5 linked regions of the Homo sapiens genome follow. The protein of the gene in region 1 purifies or fractionates together with the protein of each later gene. This does not show direct contact. Each region holds a gene or a part of one and is shown in the gene's direction. Other genes may lie near its edges.

What was found.
Region 2: the proteins of USP30 (region 1) and QKI purify together in Homo sapiens (affinity purification with mass spectrometry; one large-scale study listed by BioGRID and IntAct). This does not show direct contact.
Region 3: the proteins of USP30 (region 1) and MPND purify together in Homo sapiens (affinity purification with mass spectrometry, with the first as the bait; one large-scale study listed by BioGRID). This does not show direct contact.
Region 4: the proteins of USP30 (region 1) and TOMM70 purify together in Homo sapiens (affinity purification with western blotting, with the first as the bait; one study listed by BioGRID). This does not show direct contact.
Region 5: the proteins of USP30 (region 1) and SS18L1 purify together in Homo sapiens (affinity purification with mass spectrometry; one large-scale study listed by BioGRID and IntAct). This does not show direct contact.

Annotation. Positions count from the first base shown.
Region 1 is NC_000012.12:109,073,071-109,076,589, forward strand, and holds part of USP30 (ubiquitin carboxyl-terminal hydrolase 30), read left to right. Parts: intron 1-367; coding exon 368-462; intron 463-3,519. UniProt on the Homo sapiens protein: Deubiquitinating enzyme tethered to the mitochondrial outer membrane that acts as a key inhibitor of mitophagy by counteracting the action of parkin (PRKN): hydrolyzes ubiquitin attached by parkin on target proteins, such as RHOT1/MIRO1 and TOMM20, thereby blocking parkin's ability to drive mitophagy.
Region 2 is NC_000006.12:163,561,199-163,564,717, forward strand, and holds part of QKI (KH domain-containing RNA-binding protein QKI), read left to right. Parts: intron 1-783; coding exon 784-871; intron 872-2,221; coding exon 2,222-2,521; coding exon of another isoform or gene 2,522-2,547; exon of another isoform or gene 2,548-3,468; coding exon of another isoform or gene 3,469-3,512; exon of another isoform or gene 3,513-3,519. UniProt on the Homo sapiens protein: RNA reader protein, which recognizes and binds specific RNAs, thereby regulating RNA metabolic processes, such as pre-mRNA splicing, circular RNA (circRNA) formation, mRNA export, mRNA stability and/or translation.
Region 3 is NC_000019.10:4,350,045-4,353,563, forward strand, and holds part of MPND (MPN domain-containing protein), read left to right. Parts: intron 1-2,852; coding exon 2,853-2,985; intron 2,986-3,519. UniProt on the Homo sapiens protein: Probable protease. Acts as a sensor of N(6)-methyladenosine methylation on DNA (m6A): recognizes and binds m6A DNA, leading to its degradation. Binds only double strand DNA (dsDNA) in a sequence-independent manner.
Region 4 is NC_000003.12:100,370,081-100,373,599, reverse strand, and holds part of TOMM70 (mitochondrial import receptor subunit TOM70), read left to right. Parts: coding exon 1-62; intron 63-877; coding exon 878-994; intron 995-3,519. UniProt on the Homo sapiens protein: Acts as a receptor of the preprotein translocase complex of the outer mitochondrial membrane (TOM complex). Recognizes and mediates the translocation of mitochondrial preproteins from the cytosol into the mitochondria in a chaperone dependent manner.
Region 5 is NC_000020.11:62,174,751-62,178,269, forward strand, and holds part of SS18L1 (calcium-responsive transactivator), read left to right. Parts: exon of another isoform or gene 1-1,568; intron 1,569-3,519. UniProt on the Homo sapiens protein: Transcriptional activator which is required for calcium-dependent dendritic growth and branching in cortical neurons. Recruits CREB-binding protein (CREBBP) to nuclear bodies.

The DNA of each region.
Region 1 (3,519 bases):
TTCTGTTTATTTCAGAAGATTTTATCTCGCTTTATGGAATGTTCACTTGTGGTATCCTTCTTTTGACATCTCAAACATTTTAAGCATATGTTTGTAAAAAGACATTATTCAACACAAATTCCTTTTTAAAATGTGGCTCTACCCATTATACAGAAACCGTATATAAAGATAGATCTGTGTAAATTCTCCTATGAAGGAATGGGATGTCTTTTGGATGGAAGTCAATGAGGAAAGCTATTTCAATGTACTTTTCAAGAATATTTTTTCTTAAGAGGTAGTTTCTACCACATGCTAGAAAGGAAGATGAATGTTGAGCTTGGTGCCAAAGGGCTAAAAGTGACATATCAAAAAACTTTTTGCATTCCAGGGTCACCTCACCCTACATCCAATCACTGGAAGTCTCAACATCCTTTTCATGGAAGACTCACTAGTAATATGGTCTGCAAACACTGTGAACACCAGGTAAATACAATACCAACACTTGATATTTCCGGGAGAGGTTTTCCAAAAGTTAGGATTCTTGAAAGGACCTAGAGAGTGGGCTGACATCGGTCACTGGTGTTAGAGACTACCTGGCCTCTGCACACTAGTGGACTGACTACCCCACTTTGGTCAGTGTCAGCATGTCATTTGAGGTCAGATGGCATCTTCTGCACCAAGGACAACAGACCCACTGTGGATTGGCAGGCTCTTGAGTCCAGTGGTTGAGTCTATGCTCATGGTGGACACAGTAGATTCTAGGGCTGGTTTTTTCCCCTTTACTTTTGAGGTTTTAAAATAATATTTTATTATGGAAAATTTCCAACATCATACAAAAAGAGAGAATTGTACAACTGTCACCCCAATCCATTTTATTTTATTTTATTTTTTCACAGCCATTACTGACTCCGGGATCAGTCAACTTTATAACATTTTCATTGCCCCCTAAAGAAACTCCATACTCATTAGCAACCTCTCCCCATCCTTTCCATCACCCTACCCTTGTCAACCATGAATCTACCTCTGTCTCTATGGATTTGCATATTCTGGATGCTTCATATAAATGGAATCATGTAATGTGTGGCTTTTTGTGTCTGGCTTCTTTCATTTAGCATAATATTTCCACGTTTCTTCCATATTTTGGCATGAATCAGTACTTTGTTCCTTTTATTACCAAATAATATTGCATTACATGGATCTACAACATTTTTATCCATTCATCAGTTGATGGGCATTTGGATTGTTAACACTTTTTGGCCATTATGAATAATGTTGCTGTGAACATTTACATACAAGTTTTTGTGTGGACATATATTTTCACTTCAGTTGGGTATATACCTCAGAGTAGAATTGCTAGCTTATATGGTAACTCTTTTGTTTAACCTTTTAAGGAACTGCCAGACTGTTTTCCAAAGTGGCTATGCCATTTTTCATTCCCACCGGCAGTGTATGAGGGGTTCCAATTTCTTCACAGCCTCACCCACATTTTGATGTCAGCCCACTCTCTAGGTCCTGTCTAACATTGAGGTTCTAGCCATCCTACTGAGTGCAAAGTAGTATCTCACTGTGGCTTTTTCCCCCAGTTTTATTGAGATCTAATCGACAATAAAAATTGTATATATTTAGGGTGTACAAAGTGAAGATTTGATGTATGACTGTGTGTGTGTGTGTGCACGTGCACCTGTGCTCATATGTGGTGAGAACACTCTCTTAGTATATTTCAAGAATACAATACAGTATTATTAACTGTAGTCACCATGCTGTACGTTAACTCTCCAGAACTTATTCGTCTTATAACTGAAGGTTTGCATCTTTGAGCAACATCTCCCCACCTCCCCAGCCCCTGGCAGCCAGCATGTACTCTGCTTCTGTGAGTTTGACTTTTCTAGATTCCATATAGGTATGAGATCAGGTGGTGTTTATCTTTCTATATCTGGCTTATTTCACATAGCAGATGTCCTCCAGGTTCATCCATGTTGTCACAGATGGTAGGACTTCCTTTTTGATGGCTGAATAATATTCCATTATATGTGTATACCACATTTTCTCATTCATCTGTCTGTGGACATTCCATATCTTGGCTATTGTGAATAATGCTACAATGAAGATTGTTTTGCAGATGTATCTTTGAGATACTGATTTCATTTCCTCTGGATATATACCTAGGAGTGGCATTGCTAGTTCATATAATAGTTCTATTCTTAACTTTTTGAGGAACCTTCATACTGTTTTCCATTTACATTCCCACCAACAGTATGCAAGAGTTGCCTTCTCTCCACACCCTCGGCAACACTTGTTACGTGCTGTCTTTTTTTTTCAGACAGAGTCTCGCTCTGCTGCACCCAAACTAGAGTGCAGTGGTGCCATCTTGGCTCACTGCAACCTCCGTCTCTTGGGTTCAAGCAATTCTCCCACCACAGTCTCCCAAGTAGCTGGGATTACAGGCACCCGCCAACACACCCAGCTAATCTTTTGTATTTTTAGTAGAGATCGGGTTTCACCATATTGGCCAGGCTGGTCTTGAACTCCCAACCTCAAGTGATCCGCCTGTCTCGGCCTCCCAAAGTGCTGGGATTAAGGCATGAGCCACTGTGCCTGACCACATGCTGTCATTTTGGTAATAGCCATCCTAACAGGTGTGCGGTGATAGCTCTTTATGGTTTTATTTGCATTTCCCTGATGATTAGTGATATTGAGTGCCTTTTCATATACCCACTGGCCATTTGTATGTCTTTTTTTTGCAAAGTGTCTGTTCAGCTCCTTTGCCCATTTTTTAATCATGTTACTTTTTCTTTTTTTTTTTTTTTTTGCTGTTGGTCCATATGAGTTCCTTATAAACACTCTTTTAGTGTATTTCAAGTATTCAATTTTGGATATTAACCTCTTATCAGATATATGGTTTGCTAATATTTTCTTTCATTCCATATGTTGCCTTTTCATTTTGTTGATTGTTTCATTTGCTGTGTCATTGCGGTTCTGAGTGACATTACCTTGAAGACTAATATGTTGAATGGTCTTTTTAAAAATAAGGTTCATATATTAAAAGATATGTAAGATATGTTAAGGAACTGTAATCTATAAGTTGACTATTCATCTCTTTTTTCCGTGCATTATTTTGATACTATTGTAAGTGGAATTTAAAAAAATTTATTTTCAAATTGTTTGCCACTAGTATATAGACATACAGCTGTTTATATATTGACCTTATATCTTGAGATTTTTGTAAACATTCATTTATTACTTCTAGAAGCTGTAGAAGTTTTGTTATGTATTCCTTAGCATTCTCTGTGTATGCAAACAGTCATGTTGCTTATGAATAGAAATAGTTTTAGTTCTTCCTTTCCAACCCAATCTTTATTCCTTTTTTTTTTTTTTCTTTGCCTTATTATCCTGGCTAAGACTTATGGTACAAAGTTAAATAAGAGTGATGATGGCAGACATCTTTGCTTTGTTTCAAATCTTCTGAAGCAAGTATTTGGTGTTTTATAATTAAGTATGATATTAGCTTTAGGTTTTAGTATACCTCTTTATCATACTGAC
Region 2 (3,519 bases), on another chromosome or scaffold:
TAAATTCTGTAATCAAATCTTGTATGTTTAAAATTATTTGTGTGCACATGTGCACGCGCGTGTGTGTATGTGTGTGTTTAACGAACACATTTGAGTTTTGGAATATTCAGCAAAATGATAGTTGCTGGCTGGGTGCAGTGGCTCACACTTGTAAACTTAGCACTTTGGGAGGCTGAAGCAGGAGGATCACTTGAAGCCAGGAGTTTGAGACCAGCCTGGGCTACAAAACGAGACCTTGTCTCTACAAAAAATAAAAAAAATTAGCCAGGCATGGTGGCGCGTGCCTCTAGTCGCAGCTACTTCGGAGGCTGAGGTAGGAGGATGGCTCGAACCTAGGAATTCAAGGTGGCTGTGAGCTAGGATCATGCCACAGCACTCCAGCCTGGGTAACAGAGCAAGACCCTGTATCTAAAAACAATAAAATTAATTAAAGTAATTTTAAAATGATAGATGCTGAAGAGAATATGTTATGTTTAGTCTTATCTCACATTTTCATTCATTTCTATTTAAAAGTAAAGCTTTTTAGGGGAACTTTAATAAATCGGTGTAACTGACAAAAAATTTACAAATACAATATGCTGTATATCAACATGCCTTTACTGAGAAAACAGAGAAAGCAGGCTCCATTATGTTAGCACCTTTTGGTTCTTGATCTTTTTTTCCCCTTATTAAAACAGGTGACTGTAGTCACATGATACTTACTTTAAGGCTTGTGTGTAGATATAGCTATTATATTTGTGGACAGTCTCAAATGCTTTCATCTCATGTGTTTTCCATGTATAGGCAGAAGGAGAAGACAGCCTGAAGAAGATGCAGCTGATGGAGCTTGCGATTCTGAATGGCACCTACAGAGATGCCAACATTAAATCACGTAAGAATGAGCTCTGAGGCCCAGGGTTACTGCTGTCTGCGTTGTTTTGTCTACAGACTTTTTTCCTTTTGGCAACACAATAATAGTTCATACAAAGTGAACAGTTGAAATAACTGTTCTGTCACTTGATATGGGGCTGACAGTCCTATTTTTAATGCTTTCATGAATTGAGGACACTCTTGATTTTATTTTATGTCAGCATGTTGAAGTTTTAGGTTGATAAACTTACATTATTTTAACAAAATCACAATCTCTAAATTCAAGTGTTTAAGAAATTTTCTGTTTGGTTAACTACAGATGTAGGGCTTGCAGCTTATCTTGTTAAATTTATGCAAAAGACAACATATTGAAAGCTTATTTTGAAAAAGTGAATTTGAAGTGTATCTGACTGAAATGACCCTCTGTTGAGTTCTGTCCTTTCACTTTGCTTGCATGTTTTCCCTCTAGTATTTTTCCCTGTTGATTTCATATGTGAGTTCACAGAGATCAGTGGGTGATAACTCTTTTTCCGTCCTATTTTTGTTTTTATGCGTATCTATGCATGTTTTTATAAGCCGTAAGAGGATAGCTTTTTTATGTTTAAAATGAAATAATGTGAAATTTATATTTTGAAACAATTTAAGATTCATACATGTCATTTATATGAACATACCATGTTTAAATTACTGATTATTTAAAACACATAGAATTTTTAAGTTCTAGCCAGATTTAGAAGATGTAGGCAACCTCTAGTGGGTTTAGAAGTAGTTACTTTACAAATTGTTGACATTAATTTACTCATGAAAATGTGAGTATATCATTAATAGGAATTTAGAAGTAGGGCTTTTTAAGATTTTCTGTGACGTTGGTTCCTAAAGATGCAGGAAATGTACATATATACCTAGTGGTTACTTGACTAAATGCAATAAAAATTATTCTTTCTTTACTTTGAAACTAAAGCTGTACTTTAGAAATATACCAAAACTGAGTTTCTGTGGACTCCGGTTACAAATTATTTTTTAACATCTGTTAATGCAAGTGTTTCATTGTGCTTCTGCATGTACTTTAGTCTTATGAAATCTTAGATATATCAAATGTATGAACTAAATATAACCTATTTAATGGTGTCATTCATTTTTTTACAATGGCTTTTTAATTTTTGCACATTCTTAATCACATTGGGAAAGGGAAAGCTGTTTGCATTTGATTGGTGTGCTTTTGCATTTTTGTGTGATCAGCGCATGTACTAATGATTTCCTTTTATTTTTCTTCTTTCCTGCTTTTCCTTTCTTTTTCCTACTCCCTTCTCATTTTTCCGTATTTTATACTGCTGTCTCTATACTTCTTTCTAAATTTCTTTGCTTACTGTAGCAGCCCTTGCCTTTTCTCTTGCAGCAACAGCCCAGGCTGCTCCAAGGATCATTACTGGGCCTGCGCCGGTTCTCCCACCAGCTGCCCTGCGTACTCCTACGCCAGCTGGCCCTACCATAATGCCTTTGATCAGACAAATACAGACCGCTGTCATGCCAAACGGAACTCCTCACCCAACTGCTGCAATAGTTCCTCCAGGGCCCGAAGCTGGTTTAATCTATACACCCTATGAGTACCCCTACACATTGGCACCAGCTACATCAATCCTTGAGTATCCTATTGAACCTAGTGGTGTATTAGGTAAGTTCTTCTCCCCATGGGGTTAACAACATTCTCTTTATAAATATTTTTGCTCCCTCAGATTTTGAAATGATTTTATCAGTTTTAGAGAGGCAAGACAAGTTTGCATTAGGGAAGACCGAAAACTAAATTTTGTTTTATTTCAGCCTCTCATAAGGGTTCCCCTTTGAAATAATTGCACCTTAAATTTATTCAGATCCACTTTGGTAACTGAGGTTCAGTTTGGTTGGGTAAATCTGTTGTGTACATTTCAACAAATACTTTTACATTTGACATTACTGAGGTCATTCTGAGTTTTAGGTCCCACCCCATTGGCCCGTCACCTCCATCAGCTCCACTTCTCAAACTTTATTTGAGATTTATTTTATCTCACAGGTTTGTGTAATTGTTGGAAAATTTTTAAACTTCTAAGTGAAAGTAGTCTGAGCGCTTTATAAAATTCATATTATTGTGTGTGTTTTGTAATATTTGCGATCACTTAAAATATCAGATAAATACAGTCATGCATCGCTTAACAACGGGGATACAGTCTAAGAATTGCCTTGTCTGGCAGTTTCATCATTTGGTGTACATCATAGAGTGTACTTACACAGACATAGATGATATCGTTTACTACACACCTAGGCTGTGTGGTATAGCCATTATAATCTTATGGGACCACATAGTATAAGTGGTCCGTTGTTGACCAAAATGTTGTTATGCAGGCATGACTGTAGTTGTATTCTTAAGATTTTTCAGTTCTTGTGTTTTGGAGTCCTAGTCATATTAAACATGAGAGATACTCTTAATTTCAGTAGTACAGTATGGAATAGTTAAATAAATAGCAAATCACTGAATTCAGAATCTCACTTAAGGCAGAAATTAAAATCATAATATAAACGCTTGGTTTTACATGAACAAAAAGTGGTGTGCTCGAAAAAGACATTACTGATGCCTTTTTTTTATAGAGTGGATTGAAATGCCAGTCATGCCTGATATTTCAGCCCATTGACTTGCTG
Region 3 (3,519 bases), on another chromosome or scaffold:
CCCTGCCTTTGGGTGGGAGTTGTGGGGGAAGAAGGTGGTTGGGGGGGCTTCACTGAGAAGGTGACATTTGAACGGAGAACTGAAGGTGGGGAGGGAGGGAGGGTGCCATGAGGACTTCTGAGAAACAGCCTCTGCAAAGGCCCTGGGGCACGACCGTGCCTGGTGTGTTGGAGGAACAGCGAGGAGCCTGTGTGGCTGGAGCCGAGTGAGTAAGGGAGAGAGAAGGAGGTGGGGAGGATGGGAAGGGGACAGGGCAGGTCATGCAGGGCTCTGTAGGTTATGGGGAGAACTTGGGCTTTGACCGGGAGGAAGGTGGGAGCCATGGAGTGTTGCAGGCAGAGGAAGGACAGGATCTGACTGAGGTGCTCACAGGCGTTCTCTGGTGGCTGCTGTGGGGACTAGACTGTCGGGGGTTAGGGTGGGATCCAGGGACCAGGGCAGAGGTGAGTGAGCTGGTCCAGGTGAGGGATGATGGAGTGGCCCAGGCCGACCATGGAGCAGGGAAGAAGTGGGCAGGTTCCAGGTATTTTTGGAAGTGTATCCGCCAGATTTGCTGATAGATCAGATGCTGGAGTCCTGAGCAAGTGGGTGGATCGAGCTGCCAAAATTGGGGGATGTGGGAAGGGCAGATCTGGGGGTTCAGTGGGGCCCAGCATGGCTGTGTTGAGTGTGACCCTGTGAGTCCCCCACATGGAGACATAGAGAGGCAGCTGGGCCCTGAGTCTGGAGCCGGGCGAGGCTTGGGCTGGAGACAGGACTGTGGGCAGTGTCAGGTGTAGACAGGATTTGGAGCCCTGAGAGGGGATGAGGCCACCTGGGAGGGGTGTGGAGGGAGGAGGCCTGAAAACCCAGCCTGGGGCCAGCAACAGCGAGAGGGGAGGTGAGAGGGAGCCAGGCGAGCGTGGGATCCGGGGGTTGTGTGAGGACCGTGTCCTGGTAGGTAGGAGGCTGTGCTGGGTCAGATGCTGCCGAGAAGGTGACGAGGACAGAAAGTGAGATGTGACCCAGAGAGGTCACCTCCACAAGGGCAGTTTAGGACAGAACTGGAGGAGAGGTTATTTTTAATTTGTATTTTTGTAGACAGAGTCTCGCTCCGTCACCCAGGCTGTAGTACAATGGTGTGATCTCAGTTCACTGCAGTCTCCGCCTCCCGGGTTCAAGTGATCCTCCTGCCTCAGCCTCCTGAGTAGCTGGGATTGCAGGTGTTCGCCACCATGCCTGGCTAATTTTTGTATTTTTAGTAGAGATGGGGTTTCACCATGTTGGCCAGGCTGGTCTCGAACTCCTGACCTCAAGTGGTCCACCGCCTCAGCCTCCCAAAGTGCTGGGATTGCAGGCGTGGGCCACTGTGCCCGACTGGGAGGAAAGGTTACTGAAAGACGTGAAAGCCACCTATGTATGGTGCTGGCTCGCTCAATGAACGGAGCATCTAGGTGTATGCTAAATGCTTTGTGCGTATGATTTCATTTCACCCTGATGCCATCCCCGTGGAGTTGGAGGTCATTGTGCCCTTTTACAGATAAGAATAGACTTGGCGGCCGGGCACGGTGGCTCACGCCTTTAATCCCAGCACTTTGGGTGGCCGAGATGGGCAAATCACAAGGTCAGACGATCGAGACCATCCTGGCTAACACGGTGAAACCCCATCTCTACTAAAAATACAAAAAATTAGCTGGGCGTGGTGGCACATGCCTATAATCCCAGCTACTCGGGAGGCTGAGGCAGGAAAATCACTTGAACCCGGGAGGTGGAGGTTGTAGTGAGCCGAGATCATGCCACTGCACTCCAGCCTCGGCGACAGAGTGAGACTCTGTCTCAAAAAAAAAAAAAAAAAAAGAATAGAGTTGGCTGGGCACGGTGGCTCACACCTGTAATGCCAACACTTTGGGAGGCTGAGGCAGGTGGGTCACTTGAGGTCAGGAGTTTGAGACCAGCCTGGCCAACATGGCAAAACCTCATCTATACTAAAAAGACAAAAATTAGCCAGGCATGGTGGTGGGCAACTGTACTCCCAGCTACTCAGGAGGCTGAGGCAAGAGAATGGCTTGAACCCGGAAGGCAGAGGTTGCAGTGAGCCAAGATCGTGCCACTGCGCTCCAGCCTGGGTGACAGAGTGAGACCGTGTCTCAAAGAAAAAAAAAAAGATAAAAGAATAGATAGAGTTCAGAGAGTTTAAACCCATTTATGCCTGAGGTTGCAATTCTTTGAATTTTTGCAATCAGACCTTGGCGATGACTTTGAGCAGTAGGATATAAATAGCTCCCATATGCTTAGCGTTCCAATAATGGAACCCTAGGCATAAATGGCAATGGTGCTCACCAAAGGTTGCGCAGGGCTTGTATTATAAAATGCGAGGTGAGCCGGGTGCGGTGGCTTACGCCTGTAATCCCAGCACTTTGGGAGGCCGAGGTGGGTGGATCACCTGAGGTCGGGAGTTTGAGACCAGCCTGACCAACATGGAGAAATCCCGTCTCTACTAAGAATACAAAATTAGCTGGATGTGGTGGTGCATGCCTGTAACCCCAGCTACTCAGGAGGCTGAGGCAGGAGAGTCACTTGAACCCAGGAGGCAGAAGTTGCAGTGAGCCGAAATCACACCACTGCACTCCAGACTGGGCGACAGAGAGAGACTCCGTCTCAAAAATAAATAAATAAAAAATAAATTACAAATAAATAAAAAAAAATGTGAGGTCTTAGCTTAAGGCCTTCTCTGCTCCCTCCCTCCCTCTAGTGGTCATGTGGGGCAATGGCACTTACGGCTTAGGCCAAAGGGCTGGGGTGGGATTTAGCAGGGAGCGGGGGGGCACCCAGCTGAGGGTCCCACCGCTGTCCCTGACCCCTAACCCCTGCAGAGCCCAGCCAGTGAAGGGGAGGAGGAGGAGTTGCTGATGGAAGAGGAGGAGGAGGACGTTCTGGCAGGGGTCTCAGCAGAGGACAAGAGTCGGAGACCACTGGGGAAGAGCCCTTCAGAGCCTGCCCACCCGGGTGAGAGGCGTGGGGAGGGGAGGCAGGACAGGGGCGGATACAGCTCGGGTTGGGGAGGAGACTGGGGAGAGGTTGGGCCTTGATCTTCTCCTAGGGCCCCCAAGATGGAGACATGGAGAGTCAGCTGGGCCCTAAGTCTGGAGCCGGACGAGGCCTGGGCTGAAGACAGTCCCACTGCCCAGTTTTACTCACTGCCTTGACTTCTTAAGCTCAAATGCTGGATTTTATTTTATTTTATATATTTATTTATTTTTTGGTGATGGAGTCTCCCTCTGTCGCCCAGGCTGGAATGCAGTGGCTCAATCTCGGCTCACTGCAACCTCTGCCTCCCGGGTTCAAGCGATTCTCCTGCCTCAGCCTCCCAAATAGCTGGGACTATAGGCGCCAGCCGCCACGCCTGGCTAACTTTTGTATTTTTAGTAGAGATGGAGTTTCACAATGTTGTCCAGGCTGGTCTTGAACTCCTGACCTCAGGTGATCCACCTGCCTCGGCCTCCCAAAGTGTTGGGATTACAGGCGTGAGCCACTGTACCT
Region 4 (3,519 bases), on another chromosome or scaffold:
ATGAATGTATTAGGTTAAGACCTGAGTCTGCTCTGGCACAAGCACAGAAATGTTTTGCATTGGTAGGTACTACTTTCTTTTGTATTTTCCTAAACATCACTTTTATTTTCCAGCGTCAACAAAAATGAGTATCTCATTGTCTACAAAGTCGTCTTTTTCTTTCTTTCCCAAAGGATAACTACTGAGGAAAAAAGGTGCTGATTGATACCTAGCTCTTGTATTTCTCTGGACATTTGTTTGGGTTCATCTTGATAGATGTTTGTCCCTGATTTTATACTTCCCTAAACAGAACTGGTCTCCCTGCTTCATCATAAATCAATATAAAGAGCAAAAACATTTTGAGGAAACACTCTGTAAACATGACACCATGTAACTTGCTCTCTCACCCCTGCTTCATAGAACTGTTTCTTAATATTCAGAAACACAAAGCTCAAAAGGTTGTTTTTTTTTTTTTTTTAAGTAAAAATTTTTCTAGTAAAATAAGATACTTCCAGTTAGCTGTATGGCTGGAGTCGTAAAAGAATTTTCAGTTTAAAGGAAGAAATTATGTCACAAATATATATTATAAATGAAAATGACAAAAATTTTACTAGATTTAAAATTCATTTATTGCAAAGTTCACTTCTTACAAATTAGTATGCCCTCTTCTACAGTATTGAACATCTTGAAATTGTATAGTGGCCATGGAGTCCTAGTTGTACATAACCTTTGGCTCTCTGCTGCTGAGATACCTACTTGGAACCCTTTTGGATGCTGCAGATTATGTTAGCAAATCACCTGTTTTTTTGGAAATATTTATGTAATTTTGTGTGTTTATGTTAACATTCCATGAGTTTTTGAGTTCTTGATTTGACAGGCCTGTTTTGATTTTTTATAGTACCGCCAGGCATATACGGGAAACAACTCTTCACAAATCCAAGCAGCTATGAAAGGTTTTGAAGAGGTCATAAAGAAATTTCCAAGGTGTGCCGAAGGCTATGCACTATACGCCCAGGTAAATGTTTTTTCAGGTTTTTTAAAAATAACTGCATACATATGCCAAATCTCAGTATGGAAATCAGAAAACAGTGCTATCATGGTTGCAGCTTCTTTGGAAGCAGGTGGCTTTGTTCCTGATTGATTCTCATGGCCCCTGGTTGGTCCCGAATCACCTCAGAAGAGGCTCCTTTGTTACACAATTTGGAAATCATGGCCCTAAACTCAATATGGGGAAGCTTAAGGCGAGAATTTCCCTCCTGTCTTCATTTGGATTGGTTTTGCAAAAAGTAATTACCTTAGGAAAATTTACCGTATGCAATTGGTGGAGAAAATATCCACGGAAAGGCTTTTCTTTCTATCTGGTCACTGCCTTTTTATATGGCTAGGTTGTTGTAACGGTTTATTTTAATTTATCTTTGCTTTATCTAAAATTCCTGAAACTCTCTTGGTTTAGGATTGAAGCTATGGAAAGCAGGATTTAAATCTGAATTTTTTTATTGTAGTCTGAAATTCTTGAAAACTTCTTAGTTTTAAATCATCCATTTAAATGAAAATGATTAGCTTCTTGTAGTGACGGTCATACATTTTCCCCTCAAATAAAAGATCTCTGAATGACTCAGTTTTCTTTCTTAAAGCTGAAAATTGGTTTTGGTGTCTACATAAACTAGCCATCTCAATACTCTATATCAGGGGTACAGCTGCTTTGTGGCCTCTTAGGAATGGGGCTGCACAGCAGGTGAGCCTTGGGCAAGCATCACCACCTGAGCTCCACCTCCTGTCACTGTCAAATCTGCAGCAGCATTAGATTCTCATGCCTGATGATCTGAGGTGGAACAGTTTCATCCCAAAACCATCCCTCCTCCTCCTACCCCCATCCATGCAAAAATTGTCTTCCACAAAACCAATCCGTGGTGCCAAAAGTGCTGGGAAGGTGTTGGGGACTGCTGCTCTATGTAATTTATTTTTCTTTTTTTTTCTCTTTTTAATTACAAAAGACATGTTGGGTTTTTCCCCACAGCACAGAAATAGGAAACGATAACAAATTACTATCCCCTGGCTGGGTGTGGTGGCTCCTGCCTGCAATCCCAGCACTTTGGGAGGCTGAGGCAGGCGGATCACTTGAGCCAGGAGTTTTGAGACTAGCCTGGCCAGCATGGAGAAACCCCATCTCTACTAAAAATACAAAAATTAGCTGGGTGTGGTTTGGCGCACACCTGTTATCCCAGCAACTCGGGAGGCTGAGGTAGGAGAATCGCTTGAACCCAGGAGGCGGAGGTTGCAGTGAGCTGAGATCACACTACCACACTCCAGCCTGGGCAAGAGTGAGACTCCATTTCCAAAAAAAAAAAAAAAAAAAAAAAATACCATCGCTGGTTGACCCCTCTCCTTAAACCATTCTTAAGGATGCTTATTTTGTTTTTAATTTCCTTCATGGTATCTGTAGGCAGGTTATAAGAACAATTTCACAAGGATTTTAAGGGTTTATTGAGGGTGGAACTATGAGAAAATTGATTTGTGTTGGATCTGTTCTTTAGAGGTAGGTCTTATATATAACTACATTAAAGTGTACATTTTAATCCTATGAATGGGTACACTTGAGTTTATGCCTTATAATTAGTAACAAACCAGGAAATGACAGCAACATCCTCATCATTGTCATGGAATTCAGAAGGGCTTTTTTGGTGCAGATTTCTCTAAGCATCTAGAAGAGCAAAGGCCACCGAATAGGAACCACTACTGGGGAACAACTCCTCTGCAGAACTTTCCCAATAGCATATTTCCCTATTACCATTCTGCCTTCAAGATAGGTTTGGTTTGTATGAGCTGTCTTCTCATCAGCATTAGCATTATTACAGTCAGTTTGCACTCAAATTTCTTTTCTTTGGTCTGTTTTCTAATTTTAGCTTCACTATATAGTATATGTAACTTTATATATGCATACAGTACGTGTGTGTGTATGTGTATGTGTATATATATATACTTAGTGTAACTTTTTTGGCCCTCAAAGCTTTGGCGTAGATGCTGGCCAACTCGCAAAGTTACAGCTTGAGCATAGTCTGATATCCACAGAACTGTGCCTTCCATTTCAGCCGTGGGATTTGTCTTAAAAAGTTGATTATAGCTGCTGCTTTTGTTTTCAAAATAAGTATTTATTACATTATTGTTAACTATGACAAACAATTGGGGAAAATCCTAAATGTTAACAGAAAATTGAATTATGTTTGCAGAATTGTGGTACACTCACTTAATGGTATATTATGCAGCCATTAAAAGTTACAAATACATTAAAGTTACAAAGCAAGATACAGCACTGCCTATTATTAAAGGGAGAATTGCATACAAAATGAACTCAACCATGTGAAAGAAAACAAATAGGGAAGTAAATAGAGATAGAAAAATATATCAGGAAGGCATCCATGCTCACAATGATGGAAGCTATAAAAATATTTCTACTTTCTATATCTTTCTGATTTTTATTATAAAGAAGATGTGCTGGCTACATTTCTTTGATATTTTTAAGAGCGATTTTTAAAATATTTA
Region 5 (3,519 bases), on another chromosome or scaffold:
TTCCAGGGTTCCTTCCAGAACGTTAAGTCTCTGAGCCTGTAAGGTTTTGCAGAATTGCCTCTGTGTATACGCTCACCTCAGTCATCCAGCTGGCTTTTCATACCCTAAGCTCACCGTTAGATCTGCACGCCTGGTTCTCACATTCATTCACTCTGCCAGTGTTTGTCACGTACTGGGTACGCGTCCGGTCTCTGCTGAGTGCTTGGTGTGTGGCCGCGACACGAACCCTGCACTTTTAGAGCTTATGTCTCGCTACAGAGACATAAGGTGGTCCCACAGGGCCAGACTGTGCTGAGGACAGAGCGGGGGGCCCCAAATGGAGCCCGCCTTCCAGATGGGGGCGCAGGCGACCGCATTTGGCCCGTGTGGGCAATTCCAGGACGAAGACACAGCGGGGAGTGGCTGGCAGCCCCAGGCTCAGCCTAGGGAGGGGGAAGCCCTTTCTGCCCAGGAACAGTGAGCAGGGCTTTGAAGGAGCTGAGGAAAGAGCAGCTTGGAAGATGGAAGAGCGGGAGCTCTCGGGACAGTGAGGAGGCCGGTGTGGCGGGAGGTGACAGGGACAGGTGGGCGTAGGGGCCTCCATAAAGCAGACATCGCTTTCCCTCTGAGTGGGATGGGGCCCCTGGAGGAGGACAGGGTCTGTGTGGTGGGAGCACTGCAGGAGCGAGGGCCTCCTAGAGGAGAATGAGCCAGGCAAGGGAAGAGGGCGTGCCAAGGTCCTGAGGCACCAGGAGGTTTGTCCCAGTGAAGGCAGCCTGAAGGAGGCTCGGTGGCTGGAGCACAGGGCATATGAAGGAGAATGGTCTGGGACATTTTTTGGAGCCTCCTTTGAGAGAGTCCTTAGCAGGAAGTGGCTCTGTGTTGGTGACTCTGAGGTGGCTGGAGGTGTTAGGGACACTTTACACTGCCAGTGAAATTTCAAAGCACTACATCGCTCAAGTTTGTTTTTCTCAGGGAATTGGGTAGGTAAGAGGCCAAAGACTGTTTTTTAAATGCTTCTCGTCCTCCTTCTTCAAGAGGGCAAAGGGTCACCAGGTAGATGTAGAGAAGCCTAAAGACCATGTAACACAGTCTCCCTGCCAGGGCACCGTACTCGGCCATGCCTGGGAAGGGCACGCTGATGAGGCATTTACACAGATGTCAGGAGGGCTCTGGTGTGCTCTCAGGACACTGTGAGGCCACTGTAGCCGACGCAGGGGCCGCCTCTCCCCAGTGTGTGCTGGGCGCTGGTCAGCGGGGAGCAGGCCCCAGCTTGGCCCTCCAGGTTTGCACAGGAGTGTCATGCTGGAGTCTGGAAGGACAGCAGTCTGCATCCTGATGTTAAATTAGAATTATATGTGAATGATTCTGATGAGACGCCATACCTCCTTCATACAGTCCTGAAAATAACTTATTTGGATTTTGTGAAATAAGTGAATGTCCTAACTTAATTATAAGACTGAACCAGAGGACATATAACTTTATACCTACCTATGAAAAGACCGTGACCGGTCGTGGTGGCCCATGCCTGTAATCCCAGCACTTTGGGAGGCCAAGGCAGGAGGATCACTAGAGCCCAGGAGTTTGAGACCAGCCAGGGTAACATAGCAAGACCTGTCTCTACAAAAAATAAAGTAGTCAGGCATGGTGGTGCATGCCTGTAATCCCAGCTACTTGGAAGGCTGAGGCACGAGGATCCCTTGAGCCCAGGAGGTCGAGGCTGTAGTGAGTCGTGATTGCACCATTACACTCCAGCCTGGGCTACAGAGAGCGAGACTTTGTCTTAAAAAAAGGAAAAAGAAAGGCCAGGCGTGGGGGCTTACACCTGTAATTCCAGCACTTTGGGAGGCTGAGGCGGGTAGATCACCTGCAGTCAGGAGTTGGAGAGCAGCCTGGCCAACATGGTGAAACCCCATCTCTGCTAAAAATACAAAAATTAGCCGGGTGCCTGTAAGCCCAGCTATTGGGGAAGCTGAGGTGGGAGAATCGCTTGAACCGGGAAGGCAGAGGTGAGTTGAGATCACGCCACTGCACCCCAGCCTGGGCGACAGAGAGACTCCATCTCAAAAAAAAGAAAAAGACACAGAGCAATGGGGAAGATAGAGAATAGAATTTCACATCTGGGGGGAAATGTGTCCATCTAACTGCAAAATATTAAGATAGCCTTTAGTCAGCATCCAGTGTAGCTGGCCGTGGCGCTTTGGCACAGCACTGCCGGCGCTGGGCGTCTCCTAGGGGCCATTGTGCACACTGTGTTATGTTTGCAGCACCCCTGGCCTCCACCACGATGCCAGTAGCACCCCCATTGCCCAGTCTGACAATTTAAAATGACTCCAGACATTGTCAGATGCCCCAGGGGCAAAACTGTCTCCGTTTGAGAACCACTGGGCTACACTTAAACATGTGCTGAGGCGGCCAGGCGCTGTGGCTCACGCCTATAGCACTTTGGAAAGCAGAGGCGGGCGGGAGCAGATAGAGACGGAGGTTGCAGTGAGCTGAGATCGCGCCATTGTATTCCAGCATGGGCAACAAGAGCGAAACTCTGTCTCAAAAAAAAAAAAAAGGTGCTGAGGCATTGGGGCTGCCAGTGGTTTTATAGGGCTCCAGGGCTGCCATGCCTTCAGCTGAGCAGCTCTGGATTTGAGGCTTTCCGTCTTACCCAATGGTGCAGGAGCAGAAAGACATCAGAACAGACTCCCACTAACTAGAATCATCACAGGCAGCTCTGGGAATGAGAATGTGACGTGTTCGGTCAGGCTGGAACAGCTTTCCTCCCTCCCCCACTTCCTCGCTGGGGGCATTCGGGAAATCTGATCATTAACTAGCTGGGGACACATGGAGAACAGGCATGCAGATGATGATCCGTTGTCTTCCCCTGTGGCAGTCTCCCGAGTGGCTTTCACCACAGGTCCGATGCTCCGTTTTGCTGCCCAAGGAATTCTGCCTTGTGGCCTTGTGGGGCACAGGCTCTCTAGTTTCTCTTCTTCATGTTGTTTTTTGTTGTTGTTTTTGAGATGGAGTCTTGCTCTGTTGCCCAGGCTGGAGTGCAGTGGCACGATCTCGCTCACTGCAGCCTCTGCCTCTCGGGTTCTAGCAATTCTCCTGCCTCAGCATCCGGAGTAGCTGGGATTACAAGCACGTACTATCACACCTGGCTAATTTTTGTATTTTTAGTAGAGACAGGGTTTCGCCATGTTGGCCAGGGTGGTCTCGAGCTCCTGACCTCAGGTGATCCTTCCAAAGTGCTGGGACTGTAATCCTACAGGCATGAGCCACTGTGCCTGGCCTTTTTTTTTTTTTTTTTTTTTAAGACAGGGTCTCACTCTGTCGCCCAGGCTGGAGTGCATTGGCAGGAACATGGCTCACCGCAGCCTCAACCTCCGGGGCATGCGCCACAACATGTGGCTTATTCTTTTTTTTTTTTTTTTTTTTTTTGAGACAAGGTCTCACTCTGTCACCCACACTGGAATACAGTGGCATGATCTCGGTTCACTGCAACCTCCACCTCTCAGGCCCAGTGATTCTCCTGCCTCAGCCTCC